Linked DNA regions of Homo sapiens: region 1 is linked to region 2. The links come from fine-mapping of genetic effects on gene expression. Tissue or cell type: whole blood. Region 2 holds a variant in brackets; the other region holds the start of a gene. All regions are shown on one strand. Distances are from middle to middle.

What was found.
Region 1: NPEPL1 starts here. The variant in region 2 is fine-mapped to the expression of NPEPL1 in whole blood (TOPMed, PIP above 0.99).

What each region holds. Positions count from the first base shown.
Region 1 is chr20:58,684,858-58,700,847 of GRCh38, reverse strand. NPEPL1 (aminopeptidase like 1) reads right to left here and starts at 8,048. Exons shown (of 12, transcript NM_024663.4): 1 at 7,798-8,048; 2 at 6,926-7,111; 3 at 6,256-6,426; 4 at 2,075-2,164; 5 at 1,570-1,651. The coding sequence starts at 7,947. It overlaps STX16-NPEPL1 (STX16-NPEPL1 readthrough (NMD candidate)), which reads right to left. Exons shown (of 23, transcript NR_037945.1): 9 at 9,621-9,814; 10 at 9,286-9,443; 11 at 9,068-9,124; 12 at 6,926-7,111; 13 at 6,256-6,426; 14 at 2,075-2,164; 15 at 1,570-1,651. RefSeq lists enhancers at 5,862-6,469, 7,910-8,615 and silencers at 7,533-7,622, 7,643-7,722, 7,753-7,912, 7,923-8,412.
Region 2 is chr20:58,711,363-58,727,352 of GRCh38, reverse strand. It overlaps NPEPL1 (aminopeptidase like 1), which reads right to left. Exons shown (of 12, transcript NM_024663.4): 8 at 14,774-14,874; 9 at 13,810-13,933; 10 at 13,260-13,436; 11 at 12,683-12,793; 12 at 11,509-12,185. The coding sequence ends at 12,027. It overlaps LOC124904942, which reads right to left and starts at 9,758. Exons shown (of 2, transcript XM_047440632.1): 1 at 9,358-9,758; 2 at 8,122-9,273. The coding sequence starts at 9,758. The coding sequence ends at 9,126. STX16-NPEPL1 (STX16-NPEPL1 readthrough (NMD candidate)) reads right to left here. Exons shown (of 23, transcript NR_037945.1): 19 at 14,774-14,874; 20 at 13,810-13,933; 21 at 13,260-13,436; 22 at 12,683-12,793; 23 at 11,509-12,185. RefSeq lists an enhancer at 11,367-12,174. The variant C/A (reference allele first, on the strand shown) is at 6,724.

The DNA of each region.
Region 1 (15,990 bases), 27 kb after region 2:
ATGCAAATTAGCTCCAATGTCTGAGATTGCAAACAAATTCTATGCAAAGTGTTGTTTGTTAAGCAAGAAAACCCACTAAGGGAAAAAAATATTGTATCCTTTCCAGAAAGAAAAGAACAGGATTGCAGAATGAAACGATGTTTGGATAACACCTCAAGGCTGCCCCAGCCCATGCTCGTCCCCACTTCCTGAATCCTTTGAGCACTCAGGGACTGCACCGCCCTTTCACACTCGCTCCCACAGTCCCTGCACCACTGCCTCTTTGGTTTACATGACACATCTTCTCAAGAAAGCTGTGGCCTGTGCGTGTGCAGAGTCTATGGCTCAAAGTCCTGCAATAATTGAGTCAAACAATCATAGCAACAATGACGAGAGCTAATCATGGCTGCCTGACAAACTCCAACTCATCCTGTAAGATCCACAGCAAATGCCACCTCCTCTGTGAAGCTTTTCCTGACACAAGCGGCCTCTCCCTCCACTTGTAAATGGCTCCTGTCTAGGTAGACACCACCAGGATGGCCCCTGTGGCCCCCACGTCTGGGTATTCATGTCCTTGTGCAGTCCCTCCCCCTCATGTGAGCAGGTCCTGATGTCTCACCTCTAACCAAAAGAAAAAGGTAGAAGTGATGAGATATCACTCCTGGGATTAGGTCACAGAAAAAGATGGGAGTTTCCATCTTGTTTGCTCGCTCTTTATCCCTATCTCTCGCTCAGAGACCTTGCTCGGAGGGTGGCTCAAACAGCAAGGACCTGCTGCCTCCAGCTAATGGCCTGTGAGGCCCTGAGACCTGCCAGCAGCCTGTTGTGAGCCTGCCCGGAAGCACATCGCCAGCCCCAGGCAAGCCCTCAGATGACTGCAGCCCCAGCCAACAACCTGACAACAGCAGGCAGAGACGCTGCACCAGGGGAAGATCCCCAACCCACAGCACGGGGAGGGGATAAGTGTTGCTGCATTCAGCTGCTATCTTCCGAGTGATTTGTTTTGTAGCCACACATAACACAGACAGCCGCCTTCCTCTTGCCAGTCTACAAGCACCACGGGGCAGCTGAGTCATACTTATCTGCCCCTCTGGTTCCTGGGCAGTGGGGAAAGGTGGGTCTGGGGACTTGGGGAAGGCCTCTCTGAGGAGGGGGCATTGGTTGAGATGGCCTCCACCAAAAATATATCTTGGGGGAAAGTATTCCAGATAGGGAGAGCCATCCGCACACAGGCCCTGCCTGCCGTGATGGGAACTTGTGTATTCAAGGAACAGAAAGGCCCTGCTGAGCCAGTCCCAGGAGTAAGGGTGTGCAGCACGCGAGGACGCTGGAGAGGCTGCAGGCAGGGAAGGACTTGGATCTAGCAGCTTCCAGAATCCAAATCAGAATCTGGATTGCCTCCCCTTCTCCCCCAGGGACGGCTGCTTCCCAGGGTCCGGCACTGGGCTTGGACACAGGCTGATTCCTTTCAGGTCACAAGCAGGATGAAGTTTGGGACAATGTGCCATGTGGCCCGCCGACCCCCTGCCACCCAAGTGCCCCTGGCCACTGCCCGAGGCCAAGAGCTGCAGGGATGCAGCCCCCACCCACCTCCAAATCCTCTCGTCTTCAGTTCCTCATCCCGGATGATGGTTGGGATGATCCCCAGCTCCTTTCCAACTTTGTTAATCTCCTGGACATGTTCATGGAAAAAACAACAGCACAACAACACATGAAGATGGCTGGAAACAGGAGAGGCCGAGGCTGGGGCCAGGGATGAACCGCTGCCTGTGCCGCGTCGGGGAGCCGGGCTTGGGAGCCAGCTTCGCGTGTGATGAAACCCAGAAGAGGGGGCTCACCCTCCACACACTCTCATTTCCTGTAGCTCTGGCTGTGGTCCTGCCAAGGGGCCTTGAAGAGGAGGCTCTGTCCTCCCCACACACCCTTTCCTGAGGCTTCCTGGAGCCCGGCAGACAGCAGCGCTCCGCCGAGGGCAGCCCTGAGGTTCCCTGGCCACGTCAGGGTGTGGACAGCCCCAGGTTTCCTCTGGCTCTCCTGGGAGTCTATGACACCCACCCCAGCCTGGTCCCACCCCCGGCCTGATGACGCCACAAACCTCGAGGAAGGTGTCGGTGTTCATCTCATTGCAGGGTGTGTCCACGATGCGGGCTGCTAGCCGCACGCCGTCTGTGGCATTCGCTAAGCACTAGGGAGAAAAAGGCCATCACTGGGGACCAGGTGGGAGGCAGATGTTCTCCCCTTGTCCATCCCCCAGGAACAAAAGGCAGCAGAGGCAAACATCACCCACAGGGCTACTGACAGGGCAGCAAAGAGAGGGGAGAGGGGGACCATGGCTCTCGCTGCCTGCCCCACCCCCAGCAACCCAGGGCCACCGGCCACCTGTAGAAAGAACCTTCAGCACAGCCACCACCCTGCGCCTCCACAAATATACAGGAGTCCCCAGCCTGGGGTCCTGCCCTTCTGTATCTGGATCTTTTCCAAGCCCTGTGTCCTGTTTCTCCCCTGATTCCAGCTACAACTGAAGGTAGGTGGCCCTCATGCCAGCCCCTGAGTATGCCCTGAGCTTCCCACGCCTCACCTCTGCAGATCCCACAGTCCTTTCCCTCCCACCAAGATCCCAGTCATCCTTCGAGGCACTTCTCATAGGCCGTATCTACCAGTAGCTTTTCCAGATCCTCCCCACCAAGCAGAAGCACTCTACATCCTGAGTGCTTGAACCTGCTGGCCCTCCCAGACGCCTTCCCTCTGGGCCGTTGCTTTCCTCATGAGTCCCACGCAAGTCCCTCATAAACCCTGCAAGACAGATGGGGGTCTGGCTGCCCTAGTGCTGTCACTTGACACAGCACGGTTCTGGGCACGGAGGGGAAGGACACAGAGGGAGGTCTCGCCTCATGGAACTGACGTGTCCACCCAGGAACTGAAAACATGGGCCCTGCTGGCCTGGCAGGGCTTCAGAGCCCACACTCGAAGGCAGGGCAGAGAGGGGCACATGCACCAAAGCACACATCACGTGGGTCCCAAAAATGTGTCCTTCAGCCCTGGCTTGGGCCATTCTTTGCCTTCTCATGTGTGTCTCACATCTGCCCTGGGAGCTTCACTCTCTCTCAGCTGAATCTGCGGGCACCCCTTCCCCACCCTGTTCCCCACTGTGCATCCCCAGGCACAGAAGCTTCAGACAGCTGGCTGCTTGCACGGCCTCCCTTGCTCACCAGAAAGACAATATTAAGAGAAGAGCAGCGCTGTTTTGCGGGGGTGCAGGACAGCAGCAAGTTTATCATCCCTGCCTCTAGTCTCATAATGTCAGGGCAGCAGGCGCCGGGTCGATACTGCAGCCTGGCCACCTCCCCCGCCCTGCCGAGGTAATTAAACCCCAAAGCCTCAAAGGTAGAAACCTGGACCTTGACAGCTCTGATATGAATGTGCCTGAGCCGTCCCTGCCGCCTGTCAGCGGGTTCTCTGTCTGTGAGGGCATGTGGGGACTCGACAAGGACTGTCTGAGAAGTGCGTCAATGCTGTGTGACTTGCCTCCAAGGAGGCCAGGTGTCACCTGGAAGACCCCAGACCACGGCGAGCTCGGGGCTCTGACGCAAGAGCGCTCCTGTGGGAGGGAGGGCAGGGCTGCGGGTGCCCTCCACCAACACACAGCCATGCTGCACTGGGGAAGGGTGTCCCTTACCATGAGAGGAGGACCACTCATTCTGTCCACATGTGCCAGGCATCGTGCAAGACTCTGAGAATTCAGAGACGTCCAAGGGAGTCAAGCTCAGCAGAGACTCACAGTACACAGTCCCAGTCCCTGCTACAGAAGAGGATGAGGCCACAGGATGCAGAGGGGACAGGGTCCTGGGTGGGGACTGGAAGGTTCCCGCAGGGAAGAAAAGGGAGAAGCTGAGTACAGGCCACGTGGGTGTCAGATGATGGTGTGCTCAGGACCCAAGAGGGCTGAGTGGTGGCAGCTGCAGCTTAACACCTGGCTCTGCCCCTTGCTGCCGTGGCCCCGGTGAGCCACTCAATGTCGTGGGGACAACAGGATGTATCTCACAGGGCTGTAGTGAGAATTCAGTGCACCAGCACGTGCTGTGTGCACACTCCTGCCTCAGCGCAGGGCCTGACAGCTGACAGCACTCAGAAGATGCCACCTTGCACACACCCAGATGTGCCTTTGGAAGGCGAGTGACGCAGGAGCTGGAAGGAGGCCATCTGTGGCAGGGTGACCAGGAGACTGCTGCCACAGCCCAGGAGAGCACCTCAAGGCACGGCACTGGGCAGAGCAAAGACAAGAAACAGGACACACTAGCTAGTTGGGACCAATGGGGTCGGGGGCCATGGGGACTGACTGCCCCCACTGGTTCCATCACCAGATGTTTACTGGGCCTTTTTCATGTGTGGGGTCGGGTGCTGGGATCACTGTGCACAAGACCAGGTCCCTGCCCTCTGGGGACTCCCAACCCAGTGAGGAGCACAGGAGATCAACAAAGATGTGACATGTCTAGTAGTGATGGTTTAGCTGACAAATGGGAGGGTGGTGCTAGCCAAGAGGGCCAGGCCTCCCTGGGGAGGGAATGTGGGCAGAGGCTGGATGGAGACCATGCTGGGCTGGAGAGGGAAGGACCCCTGCAGAGGAGCAAGAGCAGGAGTGGGCGTGGCCAGTCTAAGGGACAGCAGGAAGTCCACAGGAGGGGAAGGGACTGAGGGCAGCAGAGGTCAGGGTGCCCTGCTGTCCTCGGAAATAAGGGTGATGCTTGAGCCCCCGGTGGGCTCTGCGGGCACCCGTGCCCACCTGGATGGCAGGCCTGGAAGTCAGAAGAAAATCCCTAAAGACAGAGAGAAGAGGCAGATGCTGGTGTCTGACCCGGAGAGGGCTGAGCAGGTCGGAACGCTGGAGAGGCCATGAAGGGGATGCCGAGAGGTGGCAGCAGTCTGGGGAGCAGCGGGAGGGAGGGAGACCTCTGGATGGGGCAGATGCACTTCAAGGAGGGACGGCAACACCCCATCCAGCAGTCCTTAGAAAACAATGTCAGGATGGGGGCAAAAACTCTGTCTCCATGGGTTAAGAGGGAAAAGAGGATTAAGCAAGGCAAACCAGTTAGACTTTTTTAAAAGCTCAGAGACGAAGGGAAAAAAGGGGAGCTATCTCATGCTGGTGAAGATGGAAGAATTTGGGTTGAGGGGCAGTGGTTACAGGCCTCAGAGAGCACACAGTGAAAGAAATGAGGTGTGGCCCAAGTGCTGATGTGGGAGAGCTTGCCTGGGTGAAGGCGACAGCCTTCCAGAGCCAGAAGTGAAGAATGAGCGCTGACACATGAGAAAAGACAACCTGGGTGGCGCTGTGGGCTCGGGGACTGGAGGTGGCAGGCGCAGAGGCTGGGACCGCTGCCGTGGGGACAGGAGCCTGATGTCAGGCCCATCCAAGGATCTGGAGCTGGGAAATCACTTCCGGCCTTGCAGCCTCAAAAGGATCATTCTCAGCATTGAGTGAAATAACACATGTAGAAGTGCTCCCTGTAAAGGGTGCAGCAACACACATGCACACACACCACACACACACCACTCATGCACACACTAGCACTCATACACACACAGCAACACACACAACACACACACACACCACTCATGCACACACCAGCACTCATACACACAGCAACACATGCTGCTCATGCACACACCAGTACTCACACACAACAACACACACCACACATGCACACACCACACATGCACACCACACACACACACCACTCATGCACACACCAGCAAACACACACACACAGCAACACATACCACACGTACACCACACACACCACTCATGCACACACCAGCAAACATACACAGCAACACATACCACACACACACACACATCACACATGCACACACACACCCCCCACACATACAACACATGCACATACACTCATACACGCACAGCAACACACATGTGCACGCACATACACACACACGTGCATACATCACACACGTGCACACGGAGCTCACATAAACGGGCAGGGTTATTTGGAAAACAGCATGGACGTTCCTGGCACTGATTACGTGCTCAACAAACACTGCCTGTATACAACAGAATCCTGAAGTCACAGACCACGCTGAGGCAGAGGCAGGGGGCCTGGGTTTGGAAAAGCCTCTGCCGCTTCCCAGGAACCAAAGCTCCTGGGAAGGGCAGGAACCCCCTCCTGCCCCCGCAACAAGCTTTTCCCTCTCCCGACCTCCCTCCCACCTGCCCGATCTTGCCCGGGCCCAGGGGCAGTGTCTGCCCTTCCAGACACCCACCTGCAATGTGGACACCTCCACCGGCCCGTTGTCTTGTCCCACCAGGAAAAACTCCACGGTGACCGTCTTCTTCTCCAAGCGCCGAGAGGCACCTGAGCGGTGGGTGAACAGCGGGAAGGCCCGGGCCAGGGCACAGGCGGAAGCAAAGACCTCCGGCTGCTCGCAGACCATCTGTGGCACATAGGGAGACGGCGTGAGGGGTGCAAGGGCCGCCACCAGGGAGTGCAGGGAGCTGCTCTTTGAACGCCTCCGGAACATCAGCTCCCTGGCAGGTGACATCTAGACAGAGATGTCCCACAGCAGCCGCCACCCCATCCCTCAGGTCATCCCCGGAACCATGGGACCACCATTGGTCATGCTCCAAGAGAAATAACACATTGGCCACCAGATGTCAACAGCCTGACCAGCCATGAAAATGAGGGACAGAGGGACAGACACAAAGTGGGCCTCAGGAAATCTAGGTTTGAGTCTCTGATTTGCCACCAAAACTGATCTGGGGCAAATCCCCGCGTCTCTCTGGACCTGTTTCCCTGTCTACAGAGCAGGGATGATAACGTCCACAGCCCTCTGGGCGTGCGCTGCAGTCTGAGCAGGGCTGTGAGCTCCCCAGGCCCGAGCTCACCGCTGCCCGACTAGGAGCACCGTGGCTGCCTCCTCTCGAAGCACTCACCACAATGCAGCGATGCGCTCCGGGCGGCAGGCAGGTCCGCACCAGCCGCGTGATGAAGTGGGCGGCCGAGGGGCTGTTGTGCCGGCTCACCCTGCAGGGCAGGGCAGCCACGGTGGCGTAGTTCAGGTAGAGGGGACAGCTGTCCGTGGGGTTGGGGTTGAGCGTGCTCAGGGCAGCCTGCCAGAGCTAGATCAGAAGGGAGAGACAAGACACAGAGGCTTCAAACAGCGGCCACGTGCCAGGAGGCCCTGCCCTGCAGCCACGGCCACAACCACTCCTGCAGTCCTGGAAGGGCACTGCGCAGCTCCCGGCCACCGTTTTCCCATCCTTAGGGAGATGTGTCGCCTCTCTGCAGAGCTAACTGTCTCTAGGCTGGCTCGCATCCCCCTGGTGGGATGAAGCCACCAAGCCTGGAAGGGCCAGGCTGGGGGCTGCTTTGCTTCCAACACTCGGATAGGGCTTAGGCGGCTTCCACCAGAGAGGGGGCAGGGGCCAGGTGTCCCCAAGGAAAGGCAGCTGGGGACACTGCCATGGGAACTTCTGGAAGCCAGGGCCTGTCGCCAGGCGGGGCCGACGCGCGGCCCTGGGAGCGGCCACGTCTCCCCCCCCGCCGTCCGCAGGTGTCGCGGCCTCGCGGGGCGCAGGGCTGGGCTGACAGGAGGACCACCGCGCCGCACCGGCGACGGGGCCTGGGGCTGGGCCTCCGCGGGCGAGGACTGGCCTGGCGGCTGAGCCCTTCAGGGAGGCGGCCCGGCCTCGTTGGGCCCGGCCCGGCGGCGGCGGGGGTGCGGCGGGCGAGGCGGGGCCTCCGCGGGCCGCCCGGGCCTGGGCTTCCGCGGCGCGGGTCGCATGGCGGCCGGCGGCCCGCTCACCTCCTCGGTGACCCGGGGCTGCAGCTTCCCGCGGACGTGGCTCCAGGGCACGCGGTGCAGGTGGTGCAGCTGCCCGAGCAGCAGCAGGGGCCGGCTCTGTGGGTCCGAGTCCCCCGCGCTCGCCTGGAACTGCAGCCCCACGTTCGCCATCTTCCTGCCGGCCCACGCCCCGGCCCTGCCCGGCCCGGCCCGGCCCGCCGCTCGGCCCCCTTCGCCCCGCTCCGGCCCGGCCTCGGCACCGCCCCGGCCCTGCCCGGCAGCCCGCGGGCCCCGCCTCCCCCGCCGCTCCGGGCTGCTCGCGAGACGTGCAGGGCCCGCCCGGGGCGCGAGGGGGCGCCGGCCAGGCCGGGCGGAAGGGTGCGGGCAGGCCCGGCCGGGCAGGCCCGAAGCCGGCCCCGAGCAGGCCCTGCCGAGTAGGGCCCGCGCGCCCGGCCTCCAGCGGCGCCGCCCCTGGGCCTAGCGGCCCTGCCCAACACGCGGGGCGACGTGGCCCGCCAGGCAGCGCCTCCCGGACGGGCCTGGCCTCCAGTGGGGCCTGGGCCGACGTAGGCCCAAGCCCACCCGACGCAGTTCCGCCCGGTCAGGCCTCAGGCTGGCCCCAAGCAGGTCCCCCGAGGTCCCTTAGCAGCTGCTTTTGATCCCCAGGGACCCCGCACCCTGGCCACCCATCAGTTAGGCCGGAGGGGCCCAGTGACTCTTGGACCTGAGTCAGGTCCTTTTGTCCCACTGCCTGGCATGGTGGGTACAGCGTGGACGGTCACTTCCTCCTCACTTAATCGGAGGTTCCCTGGCGTTTATCAGACCCCGCTCTGCCAGGCACTGCCCTGGATGTGAGAGGGTGACAGGGACGTGGCTTTCCATCCAGGGCACTGCTGCTGGGATGGCCAGTTACAAATCCAGGCACTGCCTGGCTGCATGGGGGGCCTTCCCGCCCACCCCTTTGCAAGAAGGGTCATCTGGCACAGTCTAAGCAGGAAAGGAGGGACGAGATGAGACGAGGAAGGAGCAGGGTGACCTGAGTCACCTCAGTCGCCTTACAGGGGAGGAAAGGCCATCGGGGGTGTGGGGCAGGAGCCGGGTGGTGGAGGAGCCAGGGGTGAGCCTTGAGTGGATGGTGGAGGCGGAGGGTCCCACCCACAGGGTCAGATGCAAGGGTCAGGGAATGACGATGCATTGGGGAAGCTCCACCCAGGAGTCATTTAAAAGCAAAAATCTGTTACCCAACATCCTGATTGCTCAAGGGCCTTTGGTTGGTACCCTCCTCTGTTACCTCCATGTAGTTCCATAAGCCACTCCTGTTATTTTGAGTTTCTTCTTCATAACCAGCCTAAAAATGAAAAAAAAAAAAAAAAAAAAAGAAAAGAAAAAAAGAAAAAAAAGCACTGTCAACTCCCTGGCGTGGTGTGAGAGGTTTTCCACCACTGACCTCCCAGCTGGCCCCCTAGCTCCCTAACTTGTAGCCCCGGGAGCCACAAGCCAGGCTTTCACCTTCCCTGTCCACAGGCTCCAGGTCTGTCTGCTCAGCTCTGAGCCATGGTCCCTGGCCCCTTGGAAACACCACAGACTAGAGCTTCAGCATCCTGAAGGCAGGTCTTTTTGACTTTTTGTTGTTTTTTTTTCCTCCAGTTCCTGGCACAGAGCAGGCACTCAAAAAAAAAAAAAAAAAAAAAAAAAAAAAAAAAAAAAGCTGTTGAATGACTGAAAGGCATTCCTTTGAAACCCTCAGCTTTCCCGACATAAAAGTCAACGCTAATTGGATCTTATTTTCTTCAAAAGATTTTACAGCAGCTGAATGTTTTCACACATTGGTAAAGGGTACTAACAGTGTGTATGAAGATCTCTCACTCTTTTTTCTGTTTGCAAATACGTTGCAGACAGGCACACGGCACTCCAGAGGACTGAGACAGCTGGAGGATCTTCCTAGAGGGTGAGAGACTAAGGCCATGCCCTGACAGATGTAATAGGACTTCCACAGGCGAAGAGATTGAGAAAGAAGGCCTTCCACGTGGGAGAAGTCCTGGGAGGAAACACAGACGCAGAATATGTCCAGCAGGCTCTGAAACCTGTGTGGTTAGAACAGAAGGTTCCTGGAAAATAGGAGTGGGTGAGGAGATCGACTGGGGAGCCTGGCTCACTCTATAGAATTTTGCAAACTGAAGAGGGATCCAAGAAGCATTTCAGAAAGCCAGATCTAGCAGGTTTGTGTACAAGGAGTTGGAAATGAGATAAACTGTTGGTGGAGAGGTCATTTTGGAGATGTTTTTCTTTTAGAATTCTTTCATATTTAAGAATAGACTGAATAACCCTGACAGTCCCCAGAAAGGATGAACAAAATGATTCAATTCAACCAACATTTGTTGAGCACTTAGTGTACACAAAGCAAGAGAAAACGTTAGATGCTTGTTAAAAGCAAATATTGGTGATTCTGGTTTTAAGCCACCCCCGAATTGAAGAAATCCAAACTAAACAGAACGCTAAGGAATTATTCCACTTCAAATGCCTGCCAATTTCCTCAAGATTCAGCTTGTGACAGATACAAATACATTCCAGGAAAGTACTTTCCCTTTTTCACTGCTGACTTTACAGACTTTAACATAAATAAGACAGGCAGCACTTTGTTTAGATAAATTTTTATGAAGGTATTAATCCATGGCTTACTATATATTTCACTGTCAATGAAAAATTCAACTCTATTTAATTTTCCTTAAAAAATGAAAGTTTAAAACAAATTACCAGATCTTTAATGCAACCCAAAAATCAACTTATGTTTTTGATGGCTTGAAACCTATTCCACATTCAATTGGATGTTCAGACTTTGCTCCAAAGTTGAAGAAAAGATTAAAAACTTCTGGGACAAATCAGAATAAAGCTCCTAGAACTTACTAGGATGTTTTTTGGTACAGTTCACATTCTAGGACACATTTCTGAAATCCTATCTTGTAAGATGGCTCTAGGTGTTTGAAATCTACATTTATATGTTAATTTCATGTCAGACTTCACCCCTATAAAACCTAATGCCTGCTTAGACTCAGCTGATTGCCACGAGGCTCTCAGATTCCATTATATCCGATACTTCAAAGAAACATTTCCTCGGTGCATCTGCTTCGTATTTTCTAGCATTTTCATTCATTCATTCATTTGACATACATTTGTTGAACATCAGTTCTGAAAAGCTACAGGACCCGTGAGGCTTTGGGGACGCAATAGCGTGTGTGTGTGTGTGTGTGTTTGTGCATGTGCACGCATATGTGTGTGTGGCCAGGAGGAGGAAGGGGAAGCAAGTAGAACAGTAAAATCCAGAGATCCAGTCACTGGGAGAAGATTGAGTTAGGGAAGGCCCCTTGGACTACGATGAGACTTTTGAGTTGGGCCTGGAGGGATCGGTTAAAGTGTGTCAGGCAGTCTGATCCCTGACCAAGGAATTGTTCATGCAAAGGCCTGAAGTAGTAAAGGACATGGTTCATTCTGGCACTGTCAAAAGCTCATGTGGAACCAGGCCCCGTGGCTCAGGCCTGTAATCCCAACACTTTGGGAGGCTGAGGCAGGTGGATCACTTGAGGCCAGGAGTTTGAGACCAGCCTGGCCAACATGGTGAAAACCCATCTCTACTAAAACTACAAAAATAAGCTGGGCATGGTGGTGCATGCCTGTAATCCCAGCTACTCGGGAGGCTGAGGCATGAGAATCACTTGAACCTGGGAAGCGGAAGTTGCAGTGAGCCGAGATCACGCCACTGCACTCCAATCTGCAGGACAGAGACTCTGTCTCTACAAAAAAAAAAGAAAGAAAAAGAAAAGCTCCTGTGCCAGATATAAAGTGCGCATAAAATATATACTGACCTTGCAGGTTGTACTTGACCTTGCAAGTAACTGGAGACCAGTGGAAGTGCCTCAGGCAGGCCTGAAGTGGAAGCAAGGAAGGGCTCCTTCCTGCTTCAGAATGACCTGCTCGTGAGCCCAGAGGAAGCAGAGGCAGGCTCAGCTCCAAGGACCTCCCTGAGCAGCTGGCTGAGAAGTGAGCCCACAACCAGTGAAAACTGTGACAGCTGCACGACCGCCTTGAATGCTGCCCTGCGTTGTGGATGTTTGTGCTGTCCCTTGCTGCAACCTGAGTGCCTGCACAGCAGGGAGGGCCTCCGTTGCCTTTTGCAACTGGCACCAGACATGCCACCTAGATTTGCACTAAATGTTCCCTGAAGGGAGGAAAGAGAACTCGTTGCCATGAAAACACATTTCTCTAGAAACTTTTTTGAAAAGTTCATTAACTTTTGGAAAAGATGAAAAACTAGTATAATGAACACTTGTATACCCTTCACCTAGATTCATACATATATATACAGATACACACACACACACACCACACACACACCACACACACATACACGCACACACCACACACACATACACACACACCACACACACACACACCACACACACCACACACACACATACACATATATACGCACATACACACATGTATACACACACAGACACACACATACACACAAACACACACATAGACACACACACACATAGACACACACACACACATATATACACACATACAGGCACACCTCGGAGATATTCTGGGTTCAGTTCCAGACCGCCACAGTAAAGTGAGGTATGCCTCTATATACACAAACATGCGTATATGTGTATGTGTGTGTATGTATATATGTATATGTATATGTGTATATGTATATGTATGTATGTACACATATTTTTCCCTGTACCATTTAAAGTAAGTTGTATACACCCCTACCTCATTGTGTATCTCTTAAGAACAAGGACACCAGCCGGGCGTGGTGGCTCACGCCTGTAATCCCAGCACTTTGGGAGGCCAAGACGGGCAGATCTCCTGAGGTCAGGAGTTCAAGACCAGCCTGGCCAACATGGCAAAAACCCGTCTCTACTAAAAACACAAAAATCAGCCAGGCGTGGTGGCATGCACCTGTAATCCCAGCTACTCGGGAGGCTGAGACAGAAGAATCGCTTGAACCTGGGAGGCGCAGGTTGCAGTGAGCCGAGATTGCGCCATTGCACTCCAGCCTGGGCAACAGGAGTGAAACTCCATCTCAGAAAAAAAAAAAAAAAAAAAAAAGGAATTAAACTACCATCAGAGTGAACAGGCAACCTACAAAATGGGAGAAAATTTTCGCAACCTACTCATCCGACAAAGGGCTAATATCCAGAATCTACAATGAACTCAAACAAATTTACAAGAAAAAAACAAACAACCCCATCAAAAAGTGGGTGAAGGACATGAACAGACACTTCTCAAAAGAAGACATTTATGCAGCCAAAAAACGCATGAAAAAATGCTCATCATCACTGGCCATCAGAGAAATGCAAATCAAAACCACAATGAGATACCATCTCACACCAGTTAGAATGGCAATCATTAAAAAGTCAGGAAACAACAGGTGCTGGAGAGGATGTGGAGAAATAGGAACACTTTTACACTGTTGGTGGGACTGTAAACTAGTTCAACCATTGTGGAAGTCAGTGTGGCGATTCCTCAGGGATCTGGAACTGGAAATACCATTTGACCCAGCCATCCCATTACTGGGTATATACCCAAAGGACTATAAATCATGCTGCTATAAAGACACATGCACACGTATGTTTATGGCGCCATTATTCACAATAGCAAAGACTTGGAACCAACCCAAATGTCCAACAATGATAGACTGGATTAAGAAAATGTGGCACATATACACCATGGAATACTATGCAGCCATAAAAAATGATGAGTTCATGTCCTTTGTAGGGACATGGATGAAATTGGAAATCATCATTCTCAGTAAACTATCGCAAGAACAAAAAACCAAACACCGCATATTCTCACTCATAGGTGGGAATTGAACAATGAGATCACACGGACACAGGAAGGGGAATATCACACTCTGGGGACGGTTGTGGGGTGGCGGGAGGGGGGAGGGATAGCATTGGGAGATATACCTAATGCTAGATGACGAGTTAGTGGGTGCAGCGCACCAGCATGGCACATGTATACATATGTAACTAACCTGCACAATGTGCGCATGTACCCTAAAACTTAAAGTATAAAAAAAAAAAAAAAGAACAAGGACACCAGCCAACATAATCATGATCATATGCTGATCATACCCATGAAATTTAACATTGAAACAATACTATTATCCAGTATACAGTCTGCAATGAAACTTTAATCGTCCCCTTGTCCTTCATGGCTTTTTCTTTTTAAATCCAGAATCCAAATAAGGCATTGCGTTTGGCTGTGAAGCCTCTCTGGCCTCCTTTAATCCAGAACAGTCCTTACCCTTGTCTTTCATGCACTGGTATATCCTACAGAAGCTCTCACCATCTGGATTCGTCTGTTTTCTTAGATTTGGGTTGAACGTTTTTGGCAAAAATACGGGTTATGGTTCCCATCGAACCTCATCAGGAGGCACATAAACTAAGTGTCCCCCATCATTGGGCAAGTGGGGTCTGCCAGATCTCTTCATGGTAAAAGTGCATTTCCCCCTTTTATAATTAATTGAATTATAATTTCCTCTTTAGAATCCATGGAGTGACACTTTGAGACTAAGAACCGTCTGGGTCTCAACCATCTATTCCTGAATGTCTTTGGTATCCAGTGATGATTTCTGCCTGAATCAAGTATTGGTTGAGTGACTTTCCAGCTCTATCCTCCCTTCTACACTTACTACCTGGTGTTCTTCAGCAAAGACCTCCCCCTCCCCAGGGCTGGCAGCATGATTTGTGGAGTCCAGTGCAAAACGAAAACGCAGCGCCTCTCTTTCAAAAAGCAATTTCAAGATGGCAACAGCTGAGCACTAAACTAGGCACAGGGCCCATGTGGCTATGGTGGCTGCACATCCTTGAAGCCAGCCCTGCCACAGCCCATACGTGTGTGCATCTCATCAAACGTCACTGCTCCCAAGTGTCCCCACTTAGGCCAATGAGAGCTGCATCAGGCAGGCTCCTTTTTGATGTGTTCTTATCCATTTTCAAGGACTTTGTCCTTCCTGGAACAGTAAGATGATCACAGGCTCACTTTGTTCCTTCCTTGACCCAAATCCAGAGTCAGCCATTTCTCCGAGAAACCCTAGCTCCATTCAGTGAGGGGAATGGTTGGTTAGAGCCAACAGCTTCAGAGTTAGAGACCAAGCTCTTGTGCTGGGCATGCTCCCTGCCACTTGGGCGTCATTGCTCCTGGTCCTCTTGGATCTGTTAAGATCAGGTTTTCTTTAACATCATGAGTTGATACTGATTCCTCCCATTCAAATCCACGTGACAGGGCTTTTCCTCACCTGCCCATCTTCCATAATCGCATCTCCCTCTGCCACAGTGAGGACCCTGGTTCCCAGCCCCTCCTAGGGTTTCTCACTCTGTTTCCCACAACACTCACCAATAGCCTCCGCTCCCGACAACAAACCCACAACACAGAGTTCAAGATGTTTTAACTTTTTGTTCCTAAGAGTATATTCCAGGGATATATTCCACATATACTTGATTTTTGTGCAGCTTACTGATTTGATGTACATTTAGGTTCATAAATCTGTGCTTCACAGAAAGGTTTGCCATTTTCCTTTTTTCTACATTTTCTTTTTTGACGACGTATAACATTTTGTATCATTCAAGTCACACCTATAAAAAGGAAATGTTCAAAGATCTCCCCATCCTGCCCTTCCCCCCTTTTCTCAGTCATCCTTCATAGGTAGCATTTTTTACCCCCACAGGTAACCTTTTTTTACCCCCATAGGTAACCATTTGTATTAGCTTTTATCTTTCATGATTCTATTTGAAAAAAATAAGATTATTCATGGATCTTAAACAAAAGGTAGCATACTACATGCCATCTTTTGCACTTTGCTTGACAAGCACATTTGGTAGCCTCATCTGCATGTACTGTGTCTATACTTTCTGGGATCAGTGGGATGAGAGAATGTGTTAATAAAAATGTACCAGCAGAATCATTTATTAACAACAAAAAACGTCTCTTCTAGCATCAGTTTTTAGGACCTCTCGATAAAATGAGGGGGCTGGGGCCAGGCATGGTGGCTCACGCCTGTAATCCCAGCACTTTGGGAGGCTGAAGCGGGCAGATCACCTGAGGTCGGAAGTTCAAAACCAGCCTGACCAACACAGAGAAACCCTGTCTCTACTACAAATACGAAAAGCCAGGCATGGTGGCACATGCCTGTAGTCC
Region 2 (15,990 bases):
TTTAGAGGTATGTTGTGTAATTTCCAAATGTTTGTGAATTTTCCAGATATCCTTCTGTTGTCGATTTCTAGTTTAAGTCCTTGATGGTCAGAGACTATACATCATATAATTTTTAATTCTTTTAAGGTTGTTAAGCTTTTAATGGCCCAGAATATGATCTATTTTGGTGAATGTTCCATTTGTACTTGAAAAGAATACATGTTCCATTACTGTTGGCTGAAGTGGCTGATAAACATCAGTTAGGTCAAGTTGACAGTGTTATTCAGGTCTTCTAAATTTGTGCTGAATTTCCATCTATGTATTCTATACTGAGAAAGAAGTGATGAAGTCTCCAAACATAACTGTGGATTTCTTCTTTTAGTTCTATCAGTTTTTGTGTCATATCGTTTGAAGTTCTGTCATTGGGGAATCTACTGTTTAGGACTGTTACATCTTCTTGGTGAATTGATTATTTTATTATTATGTAACACCCCTATTTGTACCTGGTAATTTTTTGTTGCTCTGAAGTCTTATTTATCTGATAGTAACATAGCCACTTCTGCTTTGTTTTGATGAGTATTTGCTTGGTATATCATTTTTATCCTTTTACTTTTAATCTATCAATTGAGGGGCCAGCAAACGTTTTTCTGCAAAGGGCCAGTTATTAATAGTAAATATTTTAGGTTTTGTGGCTATATATGGTTTCTATTACCTCTTTCTTCCCCTCCTTTTCTTCTTCACGACCCTTAAGAAATGTAAAAACCATTCTTAAAAACAGGCCATGGGCTGCATTTGCCCTCTGAGCCATAGTTTACTAATTTCCAGTCTATACAATTATATTTAAAGTGTATTTCTTATATATAGTGTATTAGTCTGTTTTCATGTGGCTGATAAAGACATATCTGAGACTGGGCAATTTACAAAAGAAAGAAGTTTAATTGGACTTACAGTTCCACATGGCTGGGAAAGCCTCACAGTCATGGCACAAGGCAAGGAGGAGCAAATCATGTCTTACATGGATGGCAGCAGGCAAAGAGAGAGCTTGTGTAGGGAGACTCCTGTTTCTCAAAACCATCAGATCTCATGAGAGTAATTCACTATCATGAGAATAGCGCAGGAAAGGCCTGCCCCCATGATTCAATTACGTCCCACTGGGTTGCTCCCATAACATCTGGGAATTCAAGATGAGATTTTGGTGGGGACACAGCCAAACCATATCATGTAGCATATGATTGGATCCTGTTTTTTTTTTTTTTTTCAATCCAATGTGACAATTTTTTTCATTGCTATATTTAGATTGTTTCAATTTAATGTCATTATTGATATAGTTACATTTAGGTCTACCATTTTATTATTTTTCTATTTTCTCATTGTTTTCTATGTTCCTTTTTCTGGCTTCTTTTGAATTATGTGAATATTTTTAATATTCTATTTATTTTATTTATTGGCTTTTATTGCTGTATCTCTTTGCATTACTTTTTAGTTGCTGCTTTAGGCATTATATACATACCTAACTTTTCATAATCTATTTAGAGTTAGTATTTCATCGTAGCATGTAAAATATAGAAGGCTTATAACTATGTGGTTATCTTTACCTTCTCTGTGTCATACTTTACCCTCTTTATGTTATACTTTTAACTCCTCTGTTATAATTGTCATAAGTATTAAATCTACATACATTTAATGCCCTTGATAATGTTATAATATTTGCTTTTTATAGCTTATATACATTTTAGGTACTTTGGAGAAGAAAAGTAACCCATTATATTTACCAGATATTTACCTTTTCTGTTGTTCTTCCTTCATTCCTGAAGTTCCAAGTCTTATACCGGTGTAATTCCTTTGTCTGAACAACATCCTTTCTTTTAGAGTAGGTCTACTGGTGTTTTTTGTTTTTTTTTGAGACAGAGTCTCTGTCGCCCAGGCTGGAGTGCAGTGGCGTGATCTCGGCCCTCTGCAAGCTCCGCCTCCTGGGTTCACGCCATTCTCCTGCCTCAGCCTCCCGAGTAGCTGGGACTACAGGCACCTGCCACCACGCCCGGCTAATTTTTTGTATTTTTAGTAGAGACGGGGTTTCACCGTGTTGACCAGGATGGTCTCGATCTCCTGATCTCGTGATCCACCCACCTCAGCCTCCCAAAGTGCTGGGATTACAGGCGTGAGCCACCGCACCTGGCCGGATTCTTTAAGTCTTTTCTTCTTCCTCAGAGTGTGTCTTTTTTTTTTTTTTTTTTTTGCTTTCATTCTTGACAATTTTTGCTCTATGTAGAATTCTGAGTTGACAGTTCTTTTGTTTCATGTTTTTAAAGATGTGTTCCCATGTCTTCTGACAACCATGTTTTCTGGTTAATCTTCAGTCATTGTTTATCACTGCGGTAGGTATGTTTTTTCTCTGGCTGCTTTTTAGATTTTTCTTTATCTTTGGTTTTCAGTAATCTGATTATGATGTGTTTGGGTGTGCATTTTTTTGATTTCATCCTGTTTGGAGTGCTCTAAACTTCTTGAACCTGTAAATTTATGTCTTTTCCCATATTTGGAAAGGTTCTGCTATCATTCTTTTCAAAAAATATTTATCTCCACCAATCTGTCTTCTCTTAGGGATTCCAATTATAAGAGTATTAGATGTTTCGATATTGTCTAACAAGTCCCTGAGGCACTCATATTTTGAAATCTTTTTGTTCTGTCAGTTCTTCAGTTAGAATAATTTCTATTGATCTATATTCAAGTTTACTGGCTCTTTCTTCTGCCATATTGATTCTTTAGACTTTTTATTTTGTAATAATTTTCCATTTACGGAAAAGTTGCCAAGATAAAACACAGAGCATTTCCATTTACTTCTCACCCGGTTTTCCCTAATTTTGACATCTTACATTAACATACCATAGAATGTTTGTCAAAACCAACAGGCCAACATTGGTAGGTTCCTACCAACCAAACTCCAGATTCCACTTAGATTTCACCAGTTTTTACATTAATGTCCTTTTTTGTTCTAGGATACCACATCACATTTAGTGGTTCTTTTTTATAGTTTTTCTTTGTCAAACTCCTATTTTTCCATCCATTTCAATGTTTTTAAGTTTTACTTCGTGAAGGATAGTTATAATCATTTCTCTGAAGTCTTCATCCGACAATTCCAGCATCAGGGTCATCTCAGGATTGGCATCTTTTGATTGTATTTTCTCTTAAGAATTGGTCAGATTTTCCTGATTCTTGGTATGTCAAATAATGTTGGGTTTTCATCCTGGACTTGTAGTTTTTGTATGTTAGAAGACTGGATCCTGTTTAAATCTTCTGGAGAATGCTAATTTATTTCTCCTTCTTTTCTACCTTTCTCTTCTTCTTCTTCCTCTTCCTTCTCTCCTCCTTCCCCCACTCCTCATCATCCAACTCTTCCTCCTCCTCCTCCTCCTCCTCCTCCTCCTCCTCTTTAGCGGGCAATGAATCCAGTGAAATTCACACTGCACATTCTTTCTCTCCCATGAGCGGTGGTTCAGATGTTAGTTCTCTCTTAAGAGCTTTGGCTGTGTGACTTGCAGGTGACCAGTGCATGCGCTGCTCAGAGGTGAGCCTGGAGCTTGAGTGCTGTTGTATATGGCAGTTCAGACCTCAAAGCCTTTGCTGTGCTCCTGCCTCTTGGGAATGTGGCCTGTTTGGGTGCTGTGTGAGTGGTCCTTGTCCCCTCTGCACCTTAGGATGGTTCCTTCCCTAGCTTGGGGTAGTGTCCTCCTCACATGTGCTGAGGAGTACTCAGTACTCCATGAAGACTCAGGGGAACCCCCTGCCCGTCTCTGGATTCCTTTCTCTCTGTGCCACTCTCTTCTTCCGAGTTCTGTGTCCAGCAAACTCCAGCTGCCTTGGCCATCCTGGATGTTCAACTCTGTCCCTTGAGCTCATGGAGGCCACCTGCCTGGGCTTGGCTTGGGTTTCTCCTCCCTGGGCCACACCTGGAAACTCTCCCCAGGCAGGGAGCTGGGCTGGTTGGAGGCGCATCTCATTTGTTCCATTTCTCGCAGGCATCACTCTGGGGCTGCATGTTTCTTGTGTCTGAAACAATGCTTTCTATAGATTTGTCTGGCTTTCTAACTCATCTAAAGCAGTAGTTAAATGCAGCCCCTGCAGCTCTACCATGACCAGAAACAGGAGTCAGACCGAGCTTCAGGGTGCTCTGTCTCTTGCCTTGCAGGACATTCTCACTTCCCCCCATCCCTGGGACTTCCCTGGGCTCTGACAGCCCAAATTCCACTCCCTCACTCTCAAGCCAGTAAGCCTGTGGCTCTCTGTGGGAATTCCAGCCACCCCGTGCTGAGGACTGGGGCGTCCTCAGGGAAATGGTCATATTCACACAGCACTCTCTCGTGACCTGCAAGGCCTGTGTCCACCTCTCCCACCCCATCTCACTCCCCCATCCCCGTGCCCCCCTCTCCTTTTCAGCAGCAGTGGCCTCCTTTGCATTTCTGTAACTTGTCACAGCCCACTCCAGCCTGGGCTTTTGCACATGCTGCACCCTGCACTGGAACTGATTTCTCCCATCTTCTGCACCATTGAGTACTCACATCCTTGCACTCTCAGCTCATGTATCTATACCTCCAGGGAGGCGTTCCCTACCTGGTCCCCTCCCCAAGCAAGGACAGGCCTCCCTTTAAAATGTCCTCATCACACCACCTGCCCATACTTCACGGCAGTCATCCCAGTTTGTGGTGTATTTCTTTGGGTAATACTGTGATGAGCACCTGTCCTCCTGGCGGGACTGTGAACCCTGGGAGGGCAGGGGCCATCTCTCCTCAACTTCGTCTCTCAGCACCTGACACAGAGCAGGAGCACAATGAATGTTCATTGAATGAATGAGTGAATACAAAACTACACACGGAGGGGAGGTGGGGGCCTGCAGTGTTCCCTGACACCATTCCCTCTGCCTAGAACTGCTGTCTGTGAGTCGTTTATTTATAGCATGGGGAGGAAATGGGACTGCGACATCTCCCAGCCATAGGAAGATACCATGTCTTCCTTCGGGGGCCCACGAGTTTGCACAGGAGTGGGCAGGAGCCATGTGTGTCTATTCTGCCTGGAATTTTCAGGGCCAAGCGAAGATTGGATGGAGGAAGCCGAGCTGAGAGGGCAGAGGGTGCAGGGTGCAGACTGGGATGGGGAAGGAAGCTGGGCCCGAGCATCTGGGGCTACCTTTGTTTCTCCGGATCTGCACTTGGCTTTTCCTTCCCCAATTCAGGAATGAGTCTCTGGTCATGAATGTGGAAGTAGCCAGCGAGCACGTGGTATACTACGTGGATAAGGAAACACGAGACCCACTGGCCTGCACGCTCACGCACACCCGAGAGAGCCTGTAGGAGCCCCTCCTTGCTCCAGCAGTGCCCTGGCACAGAGGGTTTTCTGCCGAGCACAACTGTTGCAGGGTGGGGTTTACCACGTGAGCAAAGGAGTCGTCTTTTGCCCATTTACATGGCACTTTCATGGACATATGTCCCCCTTGCACAGGTGAAGAATCTGGCTGACTGACGCCAGGACTCAAAGCTACAAAAGTGGCAGAGTCGGGATTTGAGCCCAGTTCTGCTGACCTGGGCATGGCACACGGACCCATCCTGCCTCCCGGGGCACAGGTGGCCAGAGGAGTCCAGGGCCCATCTATATTTTTTAAAATGTATTATCTTTTTATTGTGGTAAAATACACGTAACATAAAATCTGCCATCTTCCCCATTTCTGAATGTATAGTCAAGTGGCATTAAGTGCATTCATAATGTACAACCCGCACCACCATCATCTCCACGACCCCTTTCATCTCGTAAAATGGAAATTCTATCCCCGTTCAACACTAACTGCTCATTCCCCCCTCCCTTCAGCCCCTGGCAACCAGCCTCCTACTTTCTGTCTCTATGATTTTGACTGCTCTAACTTACCTCGTAAAAGTGGAATCCTACAGTATTTGTGTTTTTGTGACTGGCTTATTTGACTTAGCATAATTCCTCAAGGTTCATCCACGGTGTAGCCTGTGTTGGAACTTCCTTTTTAAGGCTGAACATCCACACCTTGTATTTGTGACATTTGATTATTACTTGTTCATCCACTGATGGGTATTTGGGTTGCATCCACATTTGAGCGATTGTGAATAATGCTTCTGTGAACCTGAGTGTGCAAATATCTCTTCGAGGCCCTGCTTTCAATTCTTTGGGGTGTATACCCCGAAGTGGAGTTGCTGCATCGCGTGGTCATTCTATTTGTAATCTTTTGAGGAACCGCCATACTGTTTTTCACAGCACCTGACCCATTTTCCATTCCCACCGGCCGTGCGCCAGCGTTGTGATTCCCCTACATTTTTACCAACACCTGTTATTTTCTGTTTTTGTGATAGTGGCCCTCCTAATGAGTGCAGCGTGGTTTCTCACCGGGGTTTTAATTTCTATTTTTTGAATGACGGTGATGCCGAGCATCTTTTCCTGTGCTTTTGAGCCATTTGTGTCCTTTTTTATCTATTGAAGCGTCCTTTGAGTGTTTTTGAATCAGATTCTTTTATTGTTGTTGTTGCACTTTAGGAGTTTTTATATTCTGAATATCAATGCCTTATCAGGTATATGATTTGTAAATGTTTTTCCCATTGTGTGGGTTGCCTTTTTACTCTGTGAATACTGTCTTTTGATGTGCAAAATTTCTTAATTTGCATGAAGTCCAATTTGTCTATTTTTTCTTTTGCTGCCTGTGCCTTTGGTGTCATAGCCAAGAAATCAATGACAAAT[C/A]CAAAGTCATGAAGGTTTTTGTTTTGCAAGGCCCATCCATTTTACAGATGAGGAGACCGAGGCCCGGGGTATTCAACAGTAATGAGTCTGGGATATTCAACAGTAATGAGTCCTTTTGGCCTGGCTGTATGTCTCTGTCCGGCCTTCTATTTATTCACTTCCCTCCCTCCCTCCCACCTTCATCAGCCAGCATACGTGAATCTGCTGGGCCATCGGGGTTTGGATGCCCCCTTCCCTTTCACAAACAACCTGTGCGACCTGGGGCTTCTGCACCTGCTGGAATAGGGGGGAAGATAACAGCACCTCCCAGGGGCTGCCTTGCATGTGGCAAATTGCTGATGACACATTAGCTCTTCTGGTAATGGCTAATAACACCCCGATGGGGCAGGGGGGAGTCCTCAGTCACCCCCGCCCCTGTGGGTGCCAGGGGCACAGCCCTCCTCCAGCTTCCTGCAGGGCCGTGCCGGCTCCTCCTTCCGGAAGCCGTTCCACTTGCAGGCTGGGAAGACACACCTGCAGGAGGGATCTGCTTTTCAGGGACTGCATGCCAGTAGTGTTTAGCAAATATTGTTGGACAAGGAAGCTGGCTTTGGGCCTTCATGCACTGGAACAAGCTGGGTCATGGATGCCACAGAAACTTATCCAACTCATTAGGAGAAAGGGGGGTCTCAGGCCCTCAAAAGAACTCACGGTTGTGAAGTTGGGGTAACTGCTAAACTGATTTAAGGGAGGCAAAGGGGTCCATGACATCACTGAGTTTCTTATGCAGCCAATGGGAACAGATCGTTTCAGCTGGAGGCTGCCGTGGGTTCTAACTGTGCCATCGGTGAACGTAAACCAGGCTTCTATGCTTTGTAATTGTGGGTTTTGGTTTTCAATGTTGTTTTCCTGACTGCAGAATGCTGCCTGGACTGATCCCCAAAGCCCTCGGGACTCCAGCAGGCACTGAAAGCAAAGATGGCCCATCGGTTGGATGTCAGGAAGGACTGTCACCTCCCTGAGGGTGTGTTAGCATCTCATCTGCTGCATCCTTGTCCCCTTGGCCCTGTGCAAGGGAAGAAAGCAAGCCCAGGCCATGGGGAGGGGCACAGGTCTGGGCTTTGGGGACCAGCCTAGCAGCAGGGTTGCATGAAGGCAGCCCCACCCCTCCTGAGCCCTATTTGTGAGGCCGTGGGGAAGGACCCCCGCCTGGGCCAATGTTCCCCAGAAGCTGAGCCTAATGTGGGTGAGGTGGGAGCTTTGTGTGCTGCTGGCCTTGCCTCCGAGAGCTGCATGATGACAATGCCGTCCATGTGCGTGGGGCCTGGGCTGTACATGTGCGCGGGGCCTGGTACTTTTCCAAGGGCTTTTCAATGCATTATCTTGTTGAAGGCTCATTTGAGGCAAGGACTCGAAGCAGACAGGAAAACAACCAATTTACTGAATCCTGAATGGAGAGGAAGCTGAATGCAGTGTGTATTTTTGCTGAATCTCAAACCAAAACAACTTTTGTTAAAGAACAAACAAATAAACAAAAATGCTGAACACTAATTCGCCAGGGAACACAGTCTGGACCGAGGCTCTGGGCAGAGAATCAGGGCAGCGAATTCCACAGCCACTTGGGTTCTGGTGGGGGCTGTGGATGGCAGGCGAGCTCATGAACAAGAGCTTTTGGGGACCTGGCAGCAGGAGCGAGGCAGGAGATGCTGGTGGGAGGGGGTATTTCAGGTGGGGGACCTGAGCCTTGAGCGAGGCAGGAACGAGGAGCCTGTCAGGGGCCTCGGGTCCTGGTGTGCCAGAGTGGAGGTCCCATGTTGGGAACAGCCTGGGACAGCTTCAGAGGTTTCCTGGGGGGTCACCAGCCCGATTGGAGTTGCACTTACAGTAATTAATCTGCAGCGGGAGGTGGGGTGGGATTTTCTAAGATGATTGAACGTCTTGAGCATTCCCCAACAGAAACGATTTCATTCCATTTGAGTTGCTTCTTTTAAGTGTCTATCTCTTCCATTTTTGGTGGCACAGAAGGGGAAGGCACAGATGGGTGTCTGTGTGGCACAGGGAGGGCCCGAATGGGAGGGGAGGTGGAAGACCCTCCACCTCACATGGGTCCTAGTGGAACTCACGCACCACAGGCCACAGACCAGTGCACACGCATGCACTCACGCACGCACCGCCATGGTGACACACGATCACAGAGATGCGCGCTTGGCCTGGAGTTCCTGCTGGAGACGGACTTCCCGGAACCCAGCTCACAGGAGTCTGCTCCCTTGGGCAGCAGGGGCCAGAGGATGGGTGGTGAGAAATCCTCCTCCTCACCACCAGCCAGAGGCCGAGTCCACAGGGACCAACACCCAGTCCCTTCTGAATGGGTCTCAGTGGCCTCTCCTGCACTCCTGAGAGTCAGGTGACCATCGATCCCTTGCTTAAACATCCGTCACAGCCTGTGGGAGGCAGCTGTCCGATGTGGTCACCCTGAGTGGCCCTGGGTCTTCTGAAGTCATTTCAAATGTCTCTGGAGCCTGGTGCCGCCGCTCCCCTGGTTTCCCACCTTTGCTGACAAAGACCTGACCTCTGGGGAGAGATTTTCCATCAGTTCTGGGGGCCTGCATCTGGGTCCTCTCCCAGGCCGGGGCCTGTACCCCTCACACAGCGCACCCTCGTAGGCTGCAGGATGTGGACTGGCCAGCCTTCCGCAACGCCAGGGTCTGGCTGCAGCAGCTGAGGCCGGCCGATGCCCTGAAGACGGCCCGATGGCTAAGTGGTGGGTGGCGCAGGAGGATTGGTGGCCCAGCTGTGACCAGAACCGGGGCTGTGGCCACGACCTGGAAATGGTCATCTACAATGACACAGCCCCAGAGCCCAGGCTTCCTGGCGGATGCCGGTAAAGCTCTCTTCAGCCTGGAGGTGCAGCCTTCAGCCGGGCTTTCCATAGCCCTCTGGCCCTGCTCACCTGTTCTCACAGTGGCCTTGAGTGTGTATGTGCAGCCCTGTGTGCCCTCAGCCCCAGGTGTGCACAGGCCGCTGGTGGCCAGATCTAGGGCTCCCTTCTCTAACATGGAGGGAGGAGGGGCCTCCCTTTCCTTCGCCTGCTCTGCTCATCACCTCCAGCTCCTGCAGCCTTTTTCCCAGAGACATTTCCATCCTCTCATCTCTTGTCCCTGTCTCTGGGATAACATCACCCAGGTGGGCCCTGGGATTCCAGGGAGGGGGTGTGGGTGGGGTCCTAGCCCCGCCTACTTGGCGTGGCCATGGTGATGCTCTCGGCCAAGTTCATCTGGGAGCACTTCCTTGGGGCTGTGCGCTAGCCTGCCTGTGGGGGCTCTGCACCAAGCTCGTCTTCCTGCACTGCTCCCCGGAAACCATGATCAAGTGGACCCAGAGCACCCACCTGCCCCCCAGCACCGCCAGCCGCCCCATGACCCTGTTGCCAGGGCTCTGGTGGGGCCTGGGGAAGCAGCCGTTGCCTCCTAGAGCCCTTTGGCCCCAGGGAAAGCCAGGCCTCTGGCTCACCCCCGTGGGCCCCCCGACGCCGGCAGGCAGGCCAGGCCAGCCAGCAGCTGGTGCCCAGCTGGGTCCCTGGTCCTGAGGCCGCCTTTGTGCCTGCACAAGGGAGACTCAGTTCCTCCCCTGCTCCCTGACCCTGCATCCTGTGTCCATGCGGGCGCACCCCTGGTAGCAGGAGCAGACGGTGCCAGCTGCCCTGGAGAAGGAGCCAGCCACCTCAGGACCTCTGCCTCTTCTGGGTGTCTCAGGGGAGGCCGGCAAGCGGGGCCTACTGCAGCACCATTAAGCAAGCTAATGACCCGTGAAGGCTCCTAACCCCGGCTGCAGCCGCCCCTGCTCAGGAGCTCCGGCTCCGTCTCCCCGGCTGCTGCCCACAATTGCTGTCATTGTGTTGGGTGACAGTTTCCTCAGACAGGGCCAGGACCTTGGAGCCAGTTCTTGCCTTTTCAGGCCCAGCCGGGGCTGTGTACACAGCAGGCAGTTAATAAATATTTGCTTGCGATCAGGCCCAGAAAGTCACCTTGATTTCCAGGGCTGTGGGGGCACATGGATTCTGGGGACCCTTGGGGTGGGGTGGCCAGGGGCTCAGGACACAGCCTAGGGCCACGTGTCCCACAGATCTGCAGCCAGGTCCTCACCCTCGGCCCTAGCTGAAGAGAGGTGGGCACTGTCCCCTTCCCTGTGGGGCCTCAGACCCAATCCCTTCCTGGGGGGCCCCAGGCAGCCCTGCTGCGACTGACAGCAAAGGGGATGTATGGCAGGGACAAGGTCCTGGCCTGTACTGTCACCCAAGCCAGTGGGAGCCTGGCTCCTGGGTGCCTTGGACCCGCCTCACCTGCTTTTCCTGGAGCCCAGGTTCAGGGGTTCCCTGAATCCTGGCGGGGCTCCCGGGAGATCCGAATTGGCTTCGGGGCCCTGCCCTTTATCACCTAGGACAGTGCCCAGGGGCACGGAAGCACAGTCGACCTCACACAGCGCAGGCTCCAGGACCCTCGAGAGACAGAACGGCCTCCGTGCAGGCTGCCGGGCTGTAGAGAGTTCAGGAGCCCACAGCACTTCCACCTGGAGTCTGTGCTGTGTGCACCCAGAAAATCAAAATGGTCAGGAAGGCCAGGCCTAGGCCCAGCGGCCCCCTGTCCTCCCCAGGTCCTGGGCTCCTGTCATCAACACTGGGTTGACCAGCTGGGGCTCAAAGCCAGAGCCGGTCTGGGAGAAGCAGGAGGCAGCCCTGCACTACATTCCCTAGATGGGCTCCAGGACCCGTTTCTAAAATGGAGGGGGAGAAAGAAGAACGAGGCCAGGTGAGGGGGCGGTGTGACTGTATTTAATTGAACCTCAAGTGAATTCTGAGAGGCCGGAGTGTGACTTCTCTTGCCCTATAAATCAGGTCCCCTGCAGCAAGTCAGCTCCATCTTTCACAGGGCTGGGCTGGCTGGATGCGCTGGCAGCCCCGGCTGGAGTAAGAGCCTGGCTGTCAGCCACGCAGGTGCCCTGCACAGGACCTGGGGCTGGGACAGGGCACCAGGCAGGCAGGAGGCCTCACCCCGGGGTGCAGAAGGCCCCAGGGGTAGCAGTTTACAGAAGATGTCTCAGTCCTGTAAGTAACAAACAGAAACAAGCCCCAGCGCTTCCCGGTCCCCTCCCCGTGGCCCGCACCAAACCCTAAGCTGTCTCCTAAAACTTCAGCTGTTTCCACCACCACGCTGACGACCAGAAAGACAAACCAAAACCCATATGAAGGGCAATCTTTCAATTGCTTAAAATTAATCAGTGCAAAGTGAGGTAAAAGATCCCCGTTTGTCAGGGCCGAGGCAGGAGGCTCACACAAGCCTGCGTCTCTTGGAGTCCCTCCCCAGGTCCCCCTCCTCGACATCCACCTCACAGCCCAGTGGGGACACCAGGTTCAGCAGAGGGTCCTCAGAGGCACGGCCGAAGAGCGCCAGCAGGAGGGCCACACCGAAGCCTGTGGCTCGCTCACCCTGCAAGCAAAGGGCAGGACACAGACTCTGGGCGTGGGGCTGCAGCACAGGAGGGGTTCCTGGGGACCCCTCACCTCCTGGGTCCCCTCCACGTGCCCCACAGTCCCCTTCTCAGGAAGGAGATCCTGAGCACCAGCCGGAGCCCAGAGCCTTCCATGCTGCTGGCTGGACACGTTCAGGGCTGGCAGGCCAGGCGTAGGCAGGGGGCAAGGCCCTGTGTGCTCTGCCTTCACCCCGGGAGCTCCTCAGGGTGGGGATGGGTGAGACAGGGCCCAGGATCCCCTATGGAGGACAGGCTGGCTGGGGAAGGGTCGCACACAGCAGCCACTCTGTTCCCAGGGAGGATGAGACCTGGGGGTGGTGGGGACAGCGGGCTGGAAGCTGGGTCACAGACAGAAGTTTCTGATGAGCTCTGCCAGCAGCTCCAGAGCCAGAGGGGCGCTGTTTGGACAAGCGGGCGGGAGCAGCCAGGGCCAGTGGGGAGGGGAGACACTCACAGCATGCACCGGTGCAGCAATGTCCAGGTGGACCCAGACTCCGGGCCAGTCGAAGCCGATGTGTGAGGCGATGAAGAGGCCAGCACAGGAGCTGGGGCTGTTGTCTCGGTCCTAGGGAGGCCAGGAGGACACAGTGCCTGTGGGTTGCTCCGGCCGGGCCCTCTCCACCCTGCCCCATCGCCTGTCACTATTGCTGTCTGCAAGGAGCTCGGGGTGGCTGGGAGGGAGCGTGTGGGGAGGCAGCAGAAGCTGGGCTGGGAGGGCCTTGACCATGAGCTAAGGAGTCTGCCCCCACCATAGGCCAAGGGGGAAGCCAGCAAAGGGCCTGATGGGGCAACTGAGCCAGACCCAAGACTGGGGGAGAAACCCTTGGCTGTGTGGCAGGGAAGCCAGTGAGTGGCCCACGCTGTCTGGGATGACTCCTGTGCCCTGACGCCTGCCTCTCAAGCCCTCGTCTGCACTGTGGCTGCTTCTGGGGGGCCCCAGCTCCCTGGGTGCACCAGCACCCTGAAGGCAGGGCTCCGCCTGCCCGGCTCCACCCATGTGGCAGGCTCCAGGTTCGAGGCTCCAAACCTACCGCCACTGAGTTCTTCATGTCCGCCACAGCTGAGGTGAACTCGCTGAAGTGCAGCTCGGGGCAGTAGACCAGCGGGTGCACCAGGTCCCCACACTTCCTGCCCGCCTTCACACAGGCGGCCTCCCACTCAGCGCTGTTGGTGAGCACCGCGGCGTGGTACTTCCCTGTGGCAATGCCCTGGGCGGGCAGGAACCCGGGAAGCGTGTGGACGGGACGGCAGGAGAGAAACACCCAAGGCAAAAGAGGGACCGGGAGGCAGACAGAGAAATAAGGGAGCCAGAAAAGAGACGGTTGAGAAAAAAAGAAAAAACACAGGCAGAAAGGACCATGGCCATGAAGCACACAGGAGGCGGTTCCCGGCTCTGCATCCAGCCTGGGCCTCGGTACTGCCCACACCAAGCTTGACGGGCAGCTCCTCCTGCCTCCTCGTGCCCAGTTATGAAAACTTCCTGACGGCAGCCCCCACGCGCTGCCTTCCCCACCTTGAGGTCAAGAGTGGGGTGGGGTTCCCTGGGACTACAGCTAAGGGGTGGATCCAGGGAGCACTCACCTGAGCCCCGGTCAGGGTGGCCATGTCCAGGATGATGTCGGCCCCCAGGTCCTTGCAAGCATAGGACACGCCATCTGCCAGCACCAGCCTGCCCTCGGCATCCGTGTTGTTGATTTCCACCGTCCTGGGGCATGGTAGAGATCCCCGCTCAGGGACGGGATTTCCTGGGACACTGGCATGAGCCCCTTTGAAACTGGGGAGACCCCATTTGGAGCTGCCCATCCCTGTGGCTCCCCGAACCCCAACACGTTCCCTGAATGGGAAGGCCGGGATGCCCCCAGTCCCTACAGCAATGCAGTGCCTGGAGCAAAGGGCTTCCAGGTGACATCCCTGCCCCGCTGCTCTGGAGAGCCAGAGACCAGCCATTTGGCTCTCCCATGCCTCAGTTTCTTCTTCTGTAAAGTGGGTGGCATGAACCGGCTGGGCTGGCCTTCAGCACACTGTGCCTGGCACCCGGCAGATGGGGAGGAAGAGCAGGAGATGCGGGGAGGCGCCCACTCAGGCACCAGCTCATGGGGCTGGGGAGAGGGCTCTTCTCTTTTGAATTCTGGAGCCACTTGCTCCTCAGCTGCCAGCTCAGCTTTGACTTTCCAGGGTCAATCTCAAGGGGGAGATGCAGGAGGTGTCCCCGAGCAGGGAATCTGGGGGTCAGAGCTTCACACACCCAAAGATTTCAGGCCTAAATTTTGGAAAGACCTGTCCTGGTAATGCAGGGTAGACCACGAGCTCCTGGGCCAGGCACTGCACGGGAGCCTAGCACCTCATCCAGGTGCCATGGGCCCCTCAACGTGAGGTGCGCCTGCTACCAAAGCTCCCCAGCCCTCCGGGAAGCAAGGAGCCTGCTGCCCAGGGGACCCCAACGCTGAGTGCCCTCCCGATATGCCTGGAGTGAGCTGGCATTGCAGGCCGGGAAGGGTCGCGAGTTCCAACAGTGGGCAGGAAGGAGTGGGAGGGCCAGACGTACTTCCCTGAGTACAGCAGGTGGATGTCATCTGGCCTTGTCGCATTGGGCCCCACCGAGTTCTCAGCCAAGCAGAACACAGCGTGGAGGTTGTCTTTGAAACCCTGGAGGGAGAAGTGGGCAGAGGCTCCAGTTGTAGGTCATAGGTTTGGGGAGGGGGGAGGACGAGCTGGGGGTTCTCAGACCCACAGACAGCAGGAGAGAGAGAGATGGCTCCAAGTTGCAGGGACCAAAGCTCGCCCTCCCTGCCATCCCGGGTACAGTCCTGGCAGATCCCAAGGCCAAGGCTCACCACTGGGGTTTCCTAGCCTCCCCTGGCAGAGGCCACCCGCCGCAGTGGATGAGCCTGGGCATGGGCTGGGCTGTGGGACTCTTGGACTGCATGGGCTGGGCAGTCATGAAGCCTCGCCAACCTGTGCCGACAGAAGGTGGCCAGCAGCCGCGTCCCCTCAATACACACACACACACACGTACACACACAGAGGGGCAGGAAGAGCTCAGCCTCGTGGAAGTTTAGGTGTGAAGTTATGGCTTTCTGATGCCAAAAGTCATTTGTTCACTGAGAAATGTGTGGCCAACAGATGGTGGCAGTTCCTGCCCTGCACAGGTTCTAAGGGTGCCCCCTGACCCCGAAGCGGGCCACACCCGGGCAGCAATGTCAAATGGAGTAGAGCTCCCAGACCCCTGTCCCTGCCCTTCCTCTGCTCCCGCAGACGAATCTTTAACCAGAATACATCCTCCTAGCATGGAGCATGCCTCGAGAGCGCGGACACACAGCTCTATAGGATCCAGCGTCTTTCTCATCTCCTGGAACAGCCGACTCTTCCACCACGGGTGCAGAGCCCTCACCAAAGGCAAACACTTGGGATGGTGGGGCAGGGGCAGCCAGCAGGGCAAGGAGTGGCCAGTGGCAGGAGCTGCAGCAGTGGTGCTGGGCATGGCAGCTGCGAGTCCCTGAGACCTCCCTGGGTCCCCGCTCAGTCCTTGAGCCTCACAGATGGCCCCGCACCCCCACGCAGCACAGGGGAAAGAACCCCACCAGCCTCAGGGTGATGATATCGGAGCCACCTGTCAGCTCCACAAGGGCCCCAAGTCCCCCGCTCCCACTCTCGCAGCCCAGCCTGTGTCAGGGACACGGGGCAGGGGCTTCAGGACCCTCAGCCTCCTCCTCTCAGAGCTCCTCCCCAGATACCCCAGCACTGACATTCCATCTGTGTGTA